Regions from separate parts of the Homo sapiens genome. Here region 2 is linked to region 1. Evidence: fine-mapped QTL for protein levels in blood plasma. A gene starts in region 1. The other region holds a variant in brackets. All regions are shown on one strand. Distances are from middle to middle.

Region 1 (9,906 bases):
ATATTTTATACTTACAAAAATCTAGAAATGGAGAGGGAACTGTTTTGAATAAGGATTTAAAATACCTGCACAAGGATAGAGAGAAACTATGTGACTCATTCTGTGAAAAGACTTCTTGCAGTTGTGAGTTATTTAGAAATGATCAAAATTTGTAATTAGGCTAATCCATTTAGTGATTCCTAATATTTTGTACTCACAGAGAACTAATTGACTAAACAACTTGAACGCTAGTGGTTTGTCCTTAGACAATCTGTCTTTGAATTTAAAGTCTTTATCGCTAAGACCTTGACTTTAAATTTTTCATCACTACAACCTTGAATTTAATTTCAGGTCTTCAACATGATGACCTTGGATTTAATTTAAAGTCTTCAACACTATGCGCTTTATCATATTATTCACAGATGCATTTTTGAAATGTAGTATGTAAAAGTATGTAACGTGCTGTTTATTAACAAAAGATTGTTCACAACATCTCATGTAGTTTAAATTTGTAAATACTGCTTCTGTTTTGTTTCTCCTTTATACACTTGACTGTCTTTGTGATAAGTGACATGAATTTTATGTTAGGATTAAGTATGTTTTCCTGAAACTTGGATTTTTTTTGTAATTATATAATTGAGAGTTAAGAATGAAATCCTTCAAGTGTTAAAAACTCACATTTTAAAAGCAAATTTTGGTTCCAATTCTGTATTTTGTATAATTGCTTATTTTCCATAAACTAATATTAGTCAGCATTTGCTTTTAAGGTAGAAGATGGGATGGATTCTTGCTGACCTGCTGCAAAAGTAGCAGGTCCACTCAAAGTCATCTCCTAGCTTTGACTGTACTGTCTTGTGTGCCCCACCATCCATTTTCCCCCAAGAACAGTTATTTTATAGAGAAAACTGTAAGAAAACAAGTGGCATTCAAGGCTAAGCAGCTGCCATTAGGGAACATGAAGACAAACTTATCCTTTCATTTTCACACATGTCAAGGTGTTCTGAAATAGACTAAGTCATTTTTCATGTTTACTTTTCATTTAATAGAGTATAATCAGGCTATCAAATCCTATTATGGCTATCCTTTTTTTTTTTTTTTTTTGAGACGGAGTCTCACTCTGTGGCCCAGGCTAGAGTGCGGTAGTGTGATCTCGACTTACTGCAAGCTCCACCTCCCGGGTTCACGCCATTCTCCTGCCACAGCCTCCCAAGTAGCTGGGATTACAGGTGCCCACCATCACGGCCGGCTAAGTTTTTGTATTTTTAGTAGAGACAGGGTTTCACCATGTTAGCCAGGATGGTCTCGATCTCCTGACCTCATGATCTGCCCACCTTGGCCTCCCAAAGTGCTGGGATTACAGGCGTGAGCCACCGCCCCCGGCGGCTATCCTTTTTAGAAAAAAAGTCAATTGTCTTTATTTAGTTTGTTATAACAAAATACCTTAGACTGAGTCATTTACAAACAATAGAGATTTATTGCTCACAGTTCTGGAGGGTGGGAAGTCCAAGATCAAGGCATCAGCAAATTTGGTGTCTGGTAAGTACCCACTCTCTGCTTCAAAGATGGCACCTTCTTGCTGTGTTTTATGTGGTGGAAAGAGCAAACAAACTTCCTCAGGCCTCTTTTATAAGGGCACTAATCCCCTTCATGAGGGCAGAGCCTAAAGGCCCTACCTCTTAATACTATTGCTTTAGGGATTGGATTTCAACAATTTGGGGGAACAAAAACATTCAGACCATAGCGTCAAACCACTTAATTTTTTCAAAACCGAACTTTTCCAATAAAGCAGTAATCAAAAACTAGTAAATCTTGGCAATTAAGGCTGGCCCTGGAATCCCTTGCCATTTTTTCTTTCTCTTTTCTGATGACCTCTCTCTCTATTTCCAGAGTACTTATGATGCCCCAAATCTCCCTTCCAACCCTGTCTAACCTTTGCTCCTCAGAATGCTTTGATTTGCTTTATCCTCTCATCAGAATTCACATTCTCTTAGTATGTTGAATGAGTGACCTCTAGTTCATACTGAGGTGTAGTTTTTTGTTTGTTTTTTCAGACAGTCTCGCTGTGTCTCCCAGACTGGAGTGCAGTGGCATGATCTCGGCTGACTCCAACCTCCGCCTCCCAGGTTCAAGTGATTCTTATGCCTCGGCCTCGTGGGTAGCTGGGATCACAGGTGTGCACTACCATGCCCTTTTTTGCATTTTTAGTAGAGCCAGGGTTTCACTATATTGACCAGGCTGGTCTCAAACTCCTGTCTTTAAGTGATCCTCCTGCCTCTGGCTCCCAAAGTGTTGGGATTACAGGTGTGAGCCACCGCGCCCGGCCTAACGTGAAGTTTGTTGGTAACAAGCTTCTGTATTTTCTGCTATTGGCAAGAATGCTTATTCACACGTAACAGGAATTTAACAGTTGGCATTAATGTTGCCCAAACCAGACTCTACTTTTGGTGGTGAAAAGGCCATTTCTGGCTCTGAGGACCCTTGAAAACACAACTGATTTTTTTTACTAATTTCTCTGAGGCTTGATATATCACTAGAATAAGACAAATACCTAAATTAACAGTAGCTTAAATAGTTTGGGGGTGGTTATTCTTGCGAATAGTCAGAGGTAGCTAGTTCAAGGCTGACATGATGGCACAGTGGTGTTATCAACAGTCCAGATTGGCTCCATCTTTCTGACCTGCCATCCTTAGCACAAGACTTTTCCTCTCAAAGACGATCATGGTTGCATACTGGCTGCTGCAGGCATATTGTATTCACAAAAGGATGATGATAACAAGGTAAAATGAAGTGGAAAATGAAAAGTGAGGCATGAGGCTGGAGAGGTAAACTAGCCAGGTCTCTAGCAGCCGTGTGGAGGGCAAGCAGAGAAGGGGCAGGGGATGCAGGAATTGACATGGGCAACATGGGGACCTGGTATTAAGGAATTGTAATGGCTCAAGCAACGCAAACTACAGATCTGAATTAGCACAGTAGCAATGTGAAAAAGGAATGAAATTGAGATATTGAAATGGTAAAATAGGCAGGAATGGCTGAGTAGATGTGAGGGAGTGGAAGAGGTCAACGTTGATTCCTAGGTTTCTGTCTTCATTTATGAAAAAAATTCAGGAAAAGCAGTCACTCTTTAAAGATGAATTCAGATTTGTGCACATTAAGTTCAAGATGTCTGTGGAACATATAAGTGGAGATGTCCAGCAGTCAGCTGGATATGAATATGAAGATAGGGGGAGTGGTCAGGGATGGAGACAGACTTTTGAATCATCTGCAAACATACATCCCAAGGTAAAAGAGTAGATACACTATAGTCTCCCAGGGAGCACACACAGCCATGGTTCTCAGTCTAATCCTGGGACACCAAATTATTAGTGGGTAAAGGAAAAGAATCTCAAGACCGAATGGTCAAGAAACCATTCTAGGGAACCAAACTAGGAGAGAGTGGCATCTCAGAAGCCAAGCGTGTCAAGGAAGGAATAGCTAACAGGATGTGTGTAAGGTATGTACACAAAAGAGCTTTGGAATCCATCTTGGGAAATATACAGTATTAGCTGTTTTAAGGAGACATGCTTTAAATATCAAAGCAAGTCATCCTGATTTAAAAAACTCCCACTTGTATAGAGGAATACCAGGATTTGAGCACCACCAAATGGAACTCATTCCCTGACATCCCAAAGCCATCAGAATAACAGTAGAAGCGTCAAGACAGTTACTATATGATTTTCCCTGCAAGACATTCAGTAATCTATGATTCCCCCTGCTTAAATTTTATCTCATGCCTTCTTCCCTGACCAGTTCAACACAAGCAGCCCTGAGATGTAATATCTTCTCACCCTGACCCTCAAAGTGTGTCTCATGCTTTCTAACAGAGGCCATCCTCTTGGAGGAAGACTTGTACTTTTGGCCTGTAGCCCCACCCTCCCTCCTATGGCGTTCTTACAGTCAGTTCTGCAGTGAGTGGGACACTTTCCAAATATAATAGCAAATGGAAACTTCTAATTACATCTGCACATAAAACTAATGTTCCAAATGGTGGTTGCGGTTCTGGTGAGTGCTTATAATTTTTTGTTACCTCAGCATCCATTTTTGAATATGTTTAACTTTTAATAACAGAAGCAAGTCTCAGTCACCATTGACAGTTTCCAGTACTATACCCCACGCAAATGGCTCTAGCTGGTGGCCAGAGATAAACATGCAGTGATGTGATAACAGGGCACTACTGCAGCTTCAAACTCTGGTTCAAGTTCCTCCCACCTCTGCCTTTTCACCTGCTTGCTTTTAAATCCACCAGTTAGAGCTCTCCAGAGGAAACCTAACTGGATAAAGTTGCTGGCCCAAAGGTCCGTTCCTCCCTTCCCTCTCCCTGTTCTCCCTGATCTCCGTGTGTGTGTGTGTGTGTGTGTGTGTGTGTGTGTGTGTGTCCTCTAGGCAAGCTGTGTACCACCCAGGGTCCGTAAGTACTAAAAACTCTTAAACTTTCACACCGCTGTGTTATTGAAACCATGCCTACAATCCAGTCCCTGAGGCGAGGCCACCCTGAAGGGACAGACTCATGCAGGCGGATCCCCTGGTCTTGCTCTTCTGTCCCTGCCTCTGGTGGCTGCTGGGGAACAGTAGCTACCAGCTAAGTTGATAGAGACACTCGAAGAGGTTCATTCAAAACACTGGTCCCCGAGCAGCCCAGTAAGCTTTTAAACGCATAACATTTTGTTTGGGTCTCAAACAAGTCACAAGGCACGGATACGGATGCGGCTGTGGCTGATGGCTATTTGGATGCTGCCCAAGCCTCGCAGTAGGAAGCAGCTTCAGACTGCAGCAGGGCCGCATAGCCCGATAGCCAGGCCCTGGGGCACCCAGGGCACCAGCAAGACGCACAGAAACGTTTTGAAAAACATTTTAATATACTTAAAAAAAAAGTAAAAGGGAAAATCAGAAGTCTTTGGAAGTTTCCTACTGTTTTTATGTCCCATAGCAAATCCGAGGAGGACGCCCCAAACTTTCAGTTCCCTGGGGTTTTGAAGGTGCTCATTGGGTCCTGGCCACCCGGCCTTCTCAGAACCTGGGCCAGGAGGCTGAGCTCCGCGCGGGGGTGGAGGGAGAGGAGGAGGTTCCTGCCGAGGTGCGGCTGCGCGGTGCGGGAGCCGGGAGCCTGGGAGGGCAAGGGCATCCTGAGGGGCGGGGCCGGGGGGCGGAGCCTTGCGGGCTGGAGCGAAAGAATGCGGGGGCTGAGCGCAGAAGCGGCTCGAGGCTGGAAGAGGATCTTGGGCGCCGCCAGGTAAGAAGGCCCGAAGGCCTGCTGGGGTTTGGGTGAGCCGAGCCGAGGTGGCGGCGGCAGTCTGGGCCCGGGCGGAGGGTCTGTGGGGGCTACCCCCGTCCTCGCTTTCCACTCGACCCCTGCCGGGCGAGCCTCCCGAGGCCTGGCCCTTCCAACCCGTCACCGCGGCCCGGTGTCCTAGCCGAACGCTGGCTTCATTTTATCTACGAGGAAGGAGAAACGGGGAGCGCGCCCTCTCCCAGAAGCAGCCCCGTTACCCCCGTCGCGCCCCCCATTCCCTCGGGGGCAGCCTCGCACCCGGGCCCCTGCCATCGCTTTCGTCTCAAGGGAAGCTCTAGCGGTCCAGAGAAACTGCGCCGGGGGAAAGGCCAGCCCTCCGTGGTCACGGCAGTTCCTCTCTCCCCTCGCGGTCTAAATGTGTAATTTTGAAAAGCAGGTGTCGGGCGAAACGGACTTTTTTTTTTTTTTGAGATGGAGTTTCGCTGTTGCCCAGGCTGGAGTGCAGTGGCGCGATCTGGGTTCACCGCAACCTCCGTGTACCGGGTTCAAGCGATTCTCCTGCCACAGCCTCCTGAGTAGCTGGGATTACAGGCATGCGCCACCATGCCTGGCTAAATTTTGTATTTTTAGTAGAAACGGGGTTTTCCCATGTTGGTCAGGCTGATCTTGAATTCCTGACCTCGTGATCCGCCCGCCTCCGCCTCCCAAAGTGTTGGGATTACAGGTGTGAGCCACCGCGCCCGGCCGAAACGGACGTTTTAAGTACAACGTGATGTTTTGTTTTCTTGGGTCGGCTCGGGCCGCACCCTTCTTAGAGTCTGACTGCTGACTTTTCAAAAAACAACATTAACCCGGGAGGCTGAGGTAGCGGTGAGCCGAGATCGCGCCATTGCCCTACTGCCTGGGCAATAAGAGCGAGACTCCGCCTCAAAAACGAACAAAACCCACAAAGAACAAACAAAAAAAACCAACATTAAGCAGTGTGCCTTTTATGGCCGTTTAGTGATACCCAGGCTCTTCACTGGTCATTTCTGGAAGTATTTAACAGCACTTGATGGGTAAAACAATAGGCTTCACTTCACAGGGTGGTTGAGATGATTGACGGAAAGCGCTCAGCACAAACGCGGCGGCTGCTAATTATTTCAGGTACCCTGCGATCCCTGAGCAGTTGTTCAAGTTCTCCACTCCTGGCGGTTTACTCCCAGTTCCCTGAAGAAGGCACAGAGCCCCGAATGTTGAGGGAGATGGCAACGTTTGCCAAAATGTGGCTATTTACGTGGCAGTTTATGAAGGAGAGGCAGAAAGGGAGGCTGCCTCCCCTACAAGCCAAACAGTCCTAAAACTTGTGGCCTCTGTATTTTCACAGTGGAAACTAGAAACTGTTTGCTGAACTTAGCTGTAAGAAAAACATCCCATTAGCTGAGTGGCTTAGGAGATAAAAGCCTAAATAAAATGGATCTTAGGGTGAGAGAGTGGGGTGCCTAATGGCATTCATCTTTGACAGCTGCTGGTAGAAGCTCTTGAAAAGTAGAGCATGGAAAATTCTGGGCCACCTCTTTAAGAACCTCAGCCAAACCGCCACAGACATTGCCAAGCCCAGAAGTGCTTGAGGCTTTCTAAAGGCAAAGACTTCTTTTTACTTATGTCCTATATCTTAGGAAACATATTCACTAAACCTTGGTTTTGCATGTGTACTTAACACGGGAGGGGCCGTGAGTGCGGAGATAGGACTCTTTGGAGAGTTAGGGATTGGCATTCCGGAACAAACTGCAGGAAAGGCCCTTGTAGGGGAAGCTGCAGATTTGTTTGGTCCAAAGAGTTCTGGCCTAATAAGTGGGAGCTGACCAATGAGAACACTTGGACACAGGGAGGGGAACAACACACACTGGCGCCTGTCGGCAGGTGGGGTGGGTGGGGATAGAGCATTAGGAAAAACAGCTAATGCATGCTGGGCTTAATACCTAGGTGATGGGTTGATAGGTGCAGCAAACCACCATGGTACACGTTTACCTATGAAACAAATCTGCACATCCTGCACATGTACCCTAGAATTTATATGTATATCACACAAAGAGTTTTGGAGTGGTTATTCCTGGCATGAGAACCTTGGCTGGATTGGAAAGCCTTTTCCGTTATGATGGTTGTTTTCTCTTTGTCTCTTCCTGCTGATGTAATTTGTTCCGTGAACTGAGTGATGGATGTTTGTCTGGGCGCTTCAACAGGCATGGCTAGAGCAGGTATTGTGTATGTCTCCAAGGTGACACGCAGACCTGGGGTTCAAAAGCTCTAGTTCTCTGACATTGCTGACACTAGGTATCTTGTGAGTTGCCAGCCCCTGGCGAATAGAAACAAGATCCATCCAGGGTGGTTTTGCGACTAACATGTTGCCTTGGGACAGGTAATTTCATCCCACTGGGCCTCCACTAATTTCCTATAAAATAAAAACATTGGGTTTTATTTTGAGGACACTTCTAGCCTTAAAATTCTTCAGTCTGTAAGGCCTCAGGCTCCTAGGAGGAGTAACCATACTCATGGGCAACTGTGAATCTTGTGGAAACACCACTGATGTCAACTCTCTTCTCTAATGACCTCAGCTTAACTAATGTATTTCAGAAGCTGAATTTATAAGAAGTCTCCCGTCTCCCCACTAGAGTTTAACTATGGTTCGTTCACTCAGAGCTTAGACCTGGGTTTAAATGCTGTTCTACCAGTTTCCAGTTCAGAGGTTGCTATAATAATTTTAATAATTTTTTTTTTTAATTTTGAGACAGTCTCTCTCTGTTGCCCAAGCTGGAGTGCAGTGGCACAGTCTTGGCTCACTGCAACCTCCACCTCCTGGGTGCAAGCGATTCTCGTGTCTCAGCCTCTCAAGTAGCTGGGATTACAGGTGAGTGCCACCACATCTGGCTAATTTTTGTATTTTTTTTAGTAGAGACAGGGTTTCACCATGTTGGCCAGGCTGGTCTGGAACTCCTGGCCTCAAGTGATCCACCCGCCTCAGCCTCCCAAAGTGCTGGGATTATAGGCATGAGCCACCACACTCGGCCTTATAATAATTTTCTACTGCTGCTGAAACCACCACAAATTTAGCTGTTTCAAATGCCACAAGTTTATTAATCTTTCCATTCTGTAAATCAGAAGTCTGACACAGGTCTCACAGGGCTGTAATCAAGGTGGCAGGGCTCTGTGCTGCTCTGGAGGCTCTAGGGGAGAGTCTGTTTCTGTGCTCATTCAGGTTCCTGGTAGAATATAGTCCTTGTGACTGGAGGACTGAGGTTCTGTTTCTTTGCTGAGTGTCAGTTGAGGACCATTCTTAGCTTCTAAAGGCCGCCTGTGTGCCTTGGCTTAGGGAACCCTTCGTGTCTTCATCTCATTCTTCAAATTTCTTGCCTCTTTTTCTGTTGTCGGTCATGAGTCTTTGACAGACTCTGCTACCTTCTTCCTCTTTCAATGACCCCTGGGATTACATTGGGCCCATTGAATAATCCAAAATAATCTCCTTAATCTCATCTACAAAGTCACTTGCCATGCAAGGTCTCCTGTTTTCACAGGTTCCTGGAGTTAGGATACGGACATTTTTGGGGAAGAGAGGCATTATTCTACCTACCACATAAGTTAGTTGCATAAATTAGTTCTCTTCCTCAATCTTGTTTCCTCCCCCTGTAATTGGAGGCAAAGGTTCAGTTTACCTTATGGTATTATTGTGAGGATTAACTCCAGTTACTATGTCAAGAGCATCTATCTTAGCAACTGGCCCTTGATATTTGCTCACCAAATGGAAGTTAACACAGGAACAAGGTGTATTAGTCCATTCTCACACTGCTATAAAGAAGTACCTGAGACTGGGTAATTTATAAAGAAAAGAGGTTTAATTGGCTCGCAGTTCTTTGGGCTGTATAGGCTTCTGCTTCTGGGAAGGCCTTAGGAAACTTAGAATCATGGTGGAGAAGGGGAAGCAAGAATGCCTTACTTGGCGGGAGCAGGAGGAAGACAGCAAAGGGGGAAGTGCTACACACTTTCAAACAACCAGATTTCCTAAGCTCTGCCACAAGACAGCACTAGGGGGATGGTGCTGAACTGTTAGAAACCACCCCATAATCCAGTCACCTCCCACCAGGTCCCTCCTCCGACACTGGGGATTAAAATTCAACATGAGATTTTGGAGGTGTATTAGTCCATTTTCATGCTGCTGATAAAGACATACCGAAGACTGGGTAATTTGTAAAGAAATAGAGGTTTAATGGACTCACAGTTCCACGTGGCTAGGGATGCCTCACAATCATGGCAGAGGGTGAAAGGCACGTCTTACTGGCAGCAGACAAGACAGAAATATGAGAGCCAAGTGAAAGGGGAAACCCCTTATAAAACCATCAGCTCTTGTGTGACTTATTCACTACCACAAGAACAGTATGGGGGAAACCGTCCCCAGTGATTCAATTATCTCCCACCAGGTCCCTCCCACAACACGTGGGAATTATGGGAGTTACAATTCAAAATGAGATTTGGGTGGGAACACAACCAAACCATATCACAAGGTCTTGCCTAATGGCTTGCATTCAATGTCATAATCATATGGGCCCTTAAAAGTAGAAGCGGCTCCTAAATATTTAAGAACTAACAGCTTCTTTTATAACCCTGTTGGAAGAAACATTTCCAACCCA
Region 2 (8,000 bases), 18 kb after region 1:
CCCTTCTTAAGCCTCAGTTTCAGCCCCAGCTGCTCCTCCAGGCCTGGCTTTGGTTCTTTTGCCTTCCAGTGTTACAGGTCTGGGGTTGTATGACAGCTCCTTCCTATGTTATGACCTTGTCCTCAGTGGGGCATCGTCCTGAGTTACAGCCCGTCCTGAGTTACAGCGTGGCTTTTGGCAGGGGTGGGTCAACA[A/C]TCGGCGGCTGAAGTTTCACTCCTGTCACCATAAGCTGCTTGGGGACACCAATGGATACCATTCTTAGAGTGCTGTGCAAGTCCCTTTGGGGTCCACTCTGCTTAGAGCCATCTGAGCTCAGTCCTTCTGCTCTGAGGCTCCTCCTGTGTTTTAATGATGATGATGGTCATAGTGACAGCAGCAGCAGCTAACTAACCCTGAAGCATTTATGTGCCAGTCACTACTCTAAGCATTTTACGTGTATTTGCTTATTTAATCCTCATGCCAACCTGATGGAGTTGGTGGTATTTTTATCCTTGTTTTACAAGCAACAAGATTGAGGCCTCCCCAAAATTAATAACTTGTCAAATAACACACAGAAGTGGTACACGGGAATGTGAACACACAGTCTGGCAACAGAGTCCCTGCTCTTCCCTCCTGCTCCAGGCCATCTGTCACTGGGCCACCCCCTCTCCTCAGCCACCCCTCCCCTGGTTGCTGGAGGAAATTGTGTGCTTCTGAGTCAACTTCTATAACAGTGGAAACACACATGCTTCATTGTAAAGATCAAGTGTGGTTGTCTGCCTGTGTCATGTTGGTATAATATCTTGGCCACTGCTGGTTTTTTGTTTTTTATAAATATGGTTGGTGGGGGGAGCAGAAAAGAAAGTGGCAATACAGTGAGCAATTTAAAAAAAGATTTCCACACCACTGTAGCATGTCTTAGAATATTAACAGCAACCATATATTCACTGTTTATTGTTTACTGGGGACTGTGCCAGAGCCTGTCTCATTTAAATCCGTCCAGCCATTCCGGGAGGTCGGTACTGTTACCTCCCATATTACAGCTGAGGAAATGAAGGCAAAGTAGTAACTTGGCGCCAGGACACACTTTAATATGTTCTCCCTTTCTGAGCAGAAAGAGAAGTCATGGCACCCCTTCTTCCCCACCTTCCGTGATTCTAGCCAGGGTGCACTGTAATGTGGTTCACCTGTGTTAAAACACTATATTTTTTCTATAATTATTTTTTATTTATTCATTTTTCTTGGTTCCTTCTTTTTTTCTGTCTCTGCTGCTTAAGTTGGAATATTTTCTAGAATTTTAATAGCCCAGTGACATCCTACTTCCAGCAGTCTGCATTTGTTTATGGAGCAAGCTTGGGACCATCAGCTTCTCTGTGACAAGTCTTGGGGTGCACTTCAGCCCTTTCTCAGAGAATTGAGATGTGAAGCTCACATGCCCACAGATGAGAGGCCTTCTTTGCTGCTGCCCAAAAGGGTCTCAGGACCCTGCAGGGGAACTTTCCTCTGAGCTCTGCCTCTTATGGCCCAGGGGAAACCTCGTCTACCCTGGCTTAGTGGCTAAAATATCAAACCATTGTCCACTGACCTATTGCTTGTTTTTTTTTGTTTGTTTTTTTCAGGGGGATGGAGTCTCACTCTGTCGCCCAGGCTGGAGCGCAGTGGCGCGATCTCGGCTCACTGCAACCTCCGTGTCCCAGGTTCCAGCGATTCTCCTGCCTCAGTCTTCTGAGTAGCTGGGATTACAGGAGCATGCCACTATGCCTGGCTAATTTTTGTATTTTTTTTTATTTACTTTTTAATTTTTGTATTTTTAGTAGAGGCGGGCTTTCACCATGTTGGCCAGGCTGGTCTGGAATTCCTGACCTCAAATGATCCACCTACCTCAGCCTGCCAAAGTGTTGGGATTACAGGCGTGAGCCATTGCACCTGGCCCTGTTGCTTGTTTTTGACCTCAGTTTCCACCATAATCTAGAGTTTCCTTCTCTTCCCACTCAGGTCAATTAGAAGAACATCATGGTTAACCAAGCTTGGATTTTAGAACTGACAGCCTGAGTTTGAGCTCAGCTCGGTCACTTAGTAGCTGTGTGGCTTTGAACAATTTAGTTAACATCTTAGTCTTAGTTTTCTCTTGCAAGGTGGGGATGAAGATAATTGAGCCTAGTTCTCTTAACAATCCTATGAAGAGCTTAGCACATAGATGCACATATATTTGAACACTGAATGAACATGTTTGCCATGAATATTTTTGCCCACAGACGTTCCAACCATGGGTTTTAGCCTTTCCTTCTAAAGCTTTCTTAAGAGGCCAAATGAGCCCGGGATCTAGCCACCACAAAAATCCATGTCTACAGGTAACCTTTTAAAATGGCCCTCAAACATGGCCAGTCTCAAGAACAACACCCTTCATCTTAGACTCTTTTCATTTCATGCGTGTGAATACATGTCTGGCACAAGGAAGGGACCAAAGAAAAATTGCATCTTTGCGCCTTCTCCTTGTGGCTTCCCTCTCACACGGGCATGACAGCCACAGGCTGACAGTGGGGGAGAACAAACAAAGCCTGGTGGATGGGGCCCTGCCCACAGGCCCCAGGGCTGCCGCCAGCTCTGCTGCTTTGTAGCCAGGTGTCCTTGTGTGAGTCACATCACCTCTCCAGACATCTGTCTTGTCATCTGCAAAAAAGTTGGGGAGGAGGTTGGTTTTTATTTTATTTTATTTTATTTATTTTTTAGACATGGTCTCGCTCTGTCTCCCAGGCTGGAGTGCAGTGGTGCAAGCTTGGCTCACTGCACCCTCCACCTCCCAAGCTCAAATGATTCTCATGCCTTAGCCTCCTGAATAGCTGGGATTACAGGCATGTACCACCATGCCCGGCTAATCTTTGTATATTTTGTAGAGGCGAGGTTTCACCATGTTGGCCAGGGTGGTCTCAAACTCCTGGCTACAAGTGATCCACCCACCTCGGCCTCCCAAAGTGCTGGGATTGTAGGTGTGAGCCGCCACACCTGGCCTAGTTTGTTGTTGTTTTTTAAAACTAATATTTCAAGGCATTAATCTGTAACCTTCACAAGTCAGAGGATCCTCTATTGGGTAGGATTTCACACCTGTGAGGGCAGACATGGCCATTTCAGATGCTCTAGAGAACTGGGTTCCTGTGTGTGCTCAGAAAGTGAGGACCCACCTTGCTTCCACTGGACTTTCCACTGAAAAATCTATTTCCATGGTGATAAACCTAGCCTTCAGCCTTAGAACTAGAAGTCAGCTGTTGGGCTCTAAAACCCACACTTGGTTTAACCATGACATTCTTTTGTGAGATTTTACGTGTTTCATCTTTGAAAATGTCTTTTCACAGAGGTAGGTACTTCCAAATACTGATTACATGGTAGAAGTCATATGGCATGAAGATAGTTTATCTCTGATGATGGAAAAGGGGGTATCCATACAAACCAGGAAGATTTCCTTCCAACTCTTGCTTCCTCAGTCTCTCCCCATCACACGTGTGGACTGTAACTCATCTTTTTGTTGTCACTGTTGTTACAAAAATGGAGAAGGAAAAATAACCCAGCAAAAACTGACAGCTAGCAAGGATGAGTCTTAAGAATTGACTGGGAGCAATAATTGTTTTTCAAACTAGGGAACTGGAGGCAATTTGCTTCTGATGTAAGATGACCCTCACGTTGTGTCTGCTGGTACCCAGCTGTCCTATGCCCATGGGTTTAAAGTGCACAGCTGTTGTCTTGTCTTTGACAGTGTGTACTCCTGGCATTCGGTCAGTCCCTTAGAAGGGGGTAGTTCAGTAATGATACCCTGTCCCAGAGGTTACCAAACTTTTTCTGTACAGGACCAGATAGCAATTTTTTTTTTTTTTTAAACAGAGTTTTGCTCTGTCACCCAAGCTGGAGTGCAGTGGTGCAATTGTGGCTCACTGCAACCTCTGCCTCCTGGGTTCAAGCGATTCTCCTGCCTCAGCCTCCCAAGTAGCTGGGATTATAGGTGTGCACCACCATGCCTGGCTAATTTTTTTATTTTTAGTAGAGATGGGGTTTCGCTATGTTGGCCAGGCTGGTGTCAAACTCCTGACCTCAGGTGATCCACCCTCCTCGGCTTCCCTAAGTGCTGGGATTACAGGCGTGAGCCACTGCGCCTGGCCCAGATAGTAAATATTTTAAGCTTTGCAGACCAAGAGGCAAAATCAAGGGTATTATGAGACTTACCTCAATAATAAGAAACAAAATTTTCACAGATTTTTTTATTGACAAAATTCATAACATAATTATTGAGTCCAGCATAATAATACACATCTACTAATGAGGGGAATAGAATTCTTTTTAGGGGGATAACCATTTGCTTAATTGGGGTTCAAAATTAGTGTTCCCTCGCATCAAATCAATTGCAGATGTTCATCTATTAATACTAATCTGTGATGACATTTTACATATTTCATTTTGAAAATGTATTTTCACGCAGATAGGTATTGCCAGACATTGATCATCAACCCACGAGGATGTGATTTAATTGGGCATATTCATTGCTTGGAAGACACTTATAGAATTCTGTTTGTTTCTCGGTAATTTCTTCTTAACACATCATTACATTGCAGACTAATCTCCTTCCAGTTGCAGGTTAGGAGGAAGCTTCTCAATTGCACAGTTAGATGGATATTCAAATGTGGATATTTCCTTTGTGCTTGCATCAGGGTCCAAAAAATGTTGCTGGAACTGTAGTTTGAATTTGGAAAGATATAACTGCTATACATTTGTGCGGGAGTGGAAGTATACCACAAGTTGCTGACTTTGGGCCCATATTAATGGAGATGGTGGGCTGCCAGGGGACAAGTCAGTGCTGCTTTAAGAGATCCTGACTTTCTTCCTGATTCTAGGTCATAGCCTGCAGTGCTACAACTGTCCTAACCCAACTGCTGACTGCAAAACAGCCGTCAATTGTTCATCTGATTTTGATGCGTGTCTCATTACCAAAGCTGGTAAGAGCCTCCCCTGTCTGTCTCCTAAATGTAATGGGGTAATAAGTGCCTGGGAAAAAAATTGTGCCACTGTAATCCTCATTAGGCTTGCATCAAGTAATAGCTACCATTTATTAGCGTCAGGTGTGTATTGGGCTAAGCACTTTCTTCATACATTTTAAATTTAATGTTTTGCACTTCTAAGGGTGATCTTTTATTTCCATTTGATAAATGTGGAAATGGAGGTTCAGATTAAGCAAGAAATTATGGTTAAGTAACCGACTCAGGAATTGAACATGGAAGTCCATCTGATTCCAAAGCTTGTGCTCTTTTACAGCAGCCCTGTGCTGCCTCCCAGACCTTGGAGAACCTACTGTGTGCCCAGCAGAGGGTTAGGAGCTAGGGATGCAAAGATAAAGAAAGGACACATACAATTAAAATTATGACAAAGGCCTGTTTGGCTGTCCTAAATGTCATTATATATGCCTCTGTCTCATTCCATGGGGTATCTGGTATATTCAGAGTCCTGAGGAGACTCAAGCTGAGCTCAAAGGACACGTAGGAGGTAAGAGGGCTAAGAAGGGAAGGGTGTGCCTGGGAGGGGCAACAGCAGGTGCCAGGGCTCGGTAGCCTCAGAGCAAGGTGCTCATGAATTTGGGGATGGGCAATGCTAACATGCACAAGTCCTGTCCAGTCTGCATTTTCCAAATTTGTTAGACTACAGAATATTCACCTCCATCACCCTGTTAAAATAGAGTTTAGGAAGTGGTAGACAGAGGAAAGAAACCAGCAAAGACATGCCCTCTGTTCTTGCTGGGGTGTGGTTCTGGATAGAATCGATGTGTGCAAATGATGCCAGCGAGGAATGGCAGTTTCAGAATGTTCTTAGTGTCCAAGGTAAAACCCTCAGGCTTAGATTTCTAAGAGATTAATAATAAAAACACTCCACAAGGTTATTTGTACTCTTAGACCTTCTACACCAGCTCCCCCCAGTGTCAACATCAAGAAATGGTGAACATGTCAGGTAAACTCAGAAAAGCCTTGGGACACCCACATGTTCAGAAAAACCTGAGATAAAGATGATTAACTTCCCCAGAAAGGAGAAATCCCTCAATAACTAAAGACAAATTATAGTTACCCTGTCTAAAAAAACAGGGGCATCTGATAATTTTGATATATTTAGCTGGATTTGATAAATTTGATATAGTTTAGCTGGATTGCAGCTAAAACTCCAAACCTTCCATTCAGAGCTCTTGATTCTGTAGGGCACCAGTCCCTCTGCCCCCACTGGAAGACCATATTCATTCACTGTTAATGTAGGAAGCGTAGTAAGGCCCCTAGCGAGAACATGGTCATTATGTACGAGCACAGAAGACTTGGCTCTTTAGCTTGATCAACTGTGTCTCTTGGACTCCTCACTACTAAGTATAATTAAACTAAGTATAGTTTCCAAATGAGACGATAAGGGCAATTACTATGTGTTGAATGAATATTACAGCAGCAATTAGAGCTCTGACTTCTGTCCTGCCACCAGCTAGCTCTCTCCACCTCTGTTTTTCATTTATGAAATGTATGTGTTGGACAGCAGAGGTAGGGAGGAGAGGAAAGGAGGTCAAAGCCAAGATCTTTTTCCAGCTCTTAAATCCCAAAATTTCTTATAAATGGTTAATGTAAACAAAAATGAGACACACCTATTAAAATGGCCAAACTCCAAAACTCTGACAACTCCAGATGCTGGTGAGGATGTGGAACAATGGGAACTTTGTTTTTCTGGTTTTTTTTTTCTTTTTTGAGACAAGGTCTTGCTCTGTCACCTAGGCTAGAGGGCAGTGGTGCAATCTTGGCTCACTGCAACCTCTGCCTCCAGGGTTCAAGTGATTCTCATGCCTCAGCCTCCTGAGTAATTGGGATTACAGGCATAAGCCACCATGCCCAGCTAATTTTTGTATTTTTAGTAGAGACGGGGTTTCACTATTTTGCCCAGGCTCATCTCAAACTCCTGGCCTCAAGTGATCTGCCTGCCTCGGCCTCCCAAAGTGCTGGGATTACAGGCGTGAGCTACCACGCCCAGCAGCAGTGGGAACTTTGATTCATTCCTAGTGGGAATGCAAACCAGTATAGCTACTGTGGATGACAGTTTGGTAGTTTATTACAAAACTAAAATATAACACAATATATAATACTTGATATTTTGATAATTATATACAGTATATAATATTTTATAATAAATGTGTTACTGGTTTGTGTATTTACTATATTTTTTATCATGTTAGCATGTAGTCCTTCTACTTACTAAAAAAATTAACTATAAAACAGCCTCTCGGGAGGCTGAGGCAGAAGAATTGCTTGAACCCAGGAGGCAGAGGTTGCAGTGAGCCAAGGTCGTGCCATTGTACTCTAGCCTGGGTGACAGAACAAGACTCTGTCTCTACAAAAGAAAAAAAAAAAAAAAAACAGCCTCAGCAGGCAGGTCCTTCAGGAGGTATTCCAGAAGAAGGCATTGCTCTCCTAGGACAGGACAGCCCCATGAGTATTCTTACCCCTAAGACCTTCCAGTGGGACAAGATGAAGAGGTGGAAAACAGTGATACTGATGATCCAGACCCTATGTAGGACTAGGCTAATGTGTGTGCTTGTGTCTTCATTTTTAACAAAAACAAGAAAAGTTTTTAAAAATTTTTTTAAATAAAAAAGCTTATAAAATAAGAATAGAAAGAAAATATTTTTGTGCCACTGTATAACATGTTTGTGTTTTACCCTGTTTTATTACAAAGGTAAAAACATTTACAATTAAAAAATTTCTAAAGTAAAGTGGCAGTAAACTAGGGTTGATTTTTTAAAATAAGCTTAGTGTGGACTAAATGTACAATATTTAAAACATCTACAGTAGTGTACAGCAATGTCCTAGGCCTTCACATTCGCCCACCACTCATTCACTGACTTCCAATCTCACAAGCTCCATTCACAGTAAGTGCCCTGTACAGGTGTACCATTTTTAAAATCTTTTGTGTCATATTTTTACTGTATTTTTCTATGTTTAGATATGGTCAGATACACAAATATT

Direction of the effects. Positions count from the first base shown, and alleles are read on the strand shown. Strength reflects both the effect of a copy and how common the allele is.
With allele A in place of C in region 2, the plasma level of the protein whose gene starts at base 5,204 in region 1 is higher (strong association).

What was found. A credible set is the group of variants that fine-mapping cannot tell apart. PIP is the posterior inclusion probability: the model's chance that the variant is causal. Protein levels are from antibody-based Olink assays in UK Biobank. Linkage for the fine-mapping came from a reference panel and not from the study's own genotypes, which makes the PIPs less certain.
Region 2: its variant is the best candidate, but not a certain one, in a credible set for the plasma level of the CD59 protein (UK Biobank, PIP 0.50).

What each region holds. Positions count from the first base shown.
Region 1 is chr11:33,731,721-33,741,626 of GRCh38, reverse strand. CD59 (CD59 molecule (CD59 blood group)) reads left to right here and starts at 5,204. Exons shown (of 4, transcript NM_000611.6): 1 at 5,204-5,245. FBXO3 (F-box protein 3) reads left to right here. Exons shown (of 11, transcript NM_012175.4): 11 at 1-683. RefSeq lists a silencer at 5,086-5,555 and an enhancer at 9,045-9,174.
Region 2 is chr11:33,714,328-33,722,327 of GRCh38, reverse strand. It overlaps CD59 (CD59 molecule (CD59 blood group)), which reads left to right. Exons shown (of 4, transcript NM_000611.6): 3 at 4,857-4,958. Among named protein-coding and RNA genes, the nearest start is that of C11orf91, 18 kb to the right of the region's middle. The variant A/C (reference allele first, on the strand shown) is at 195.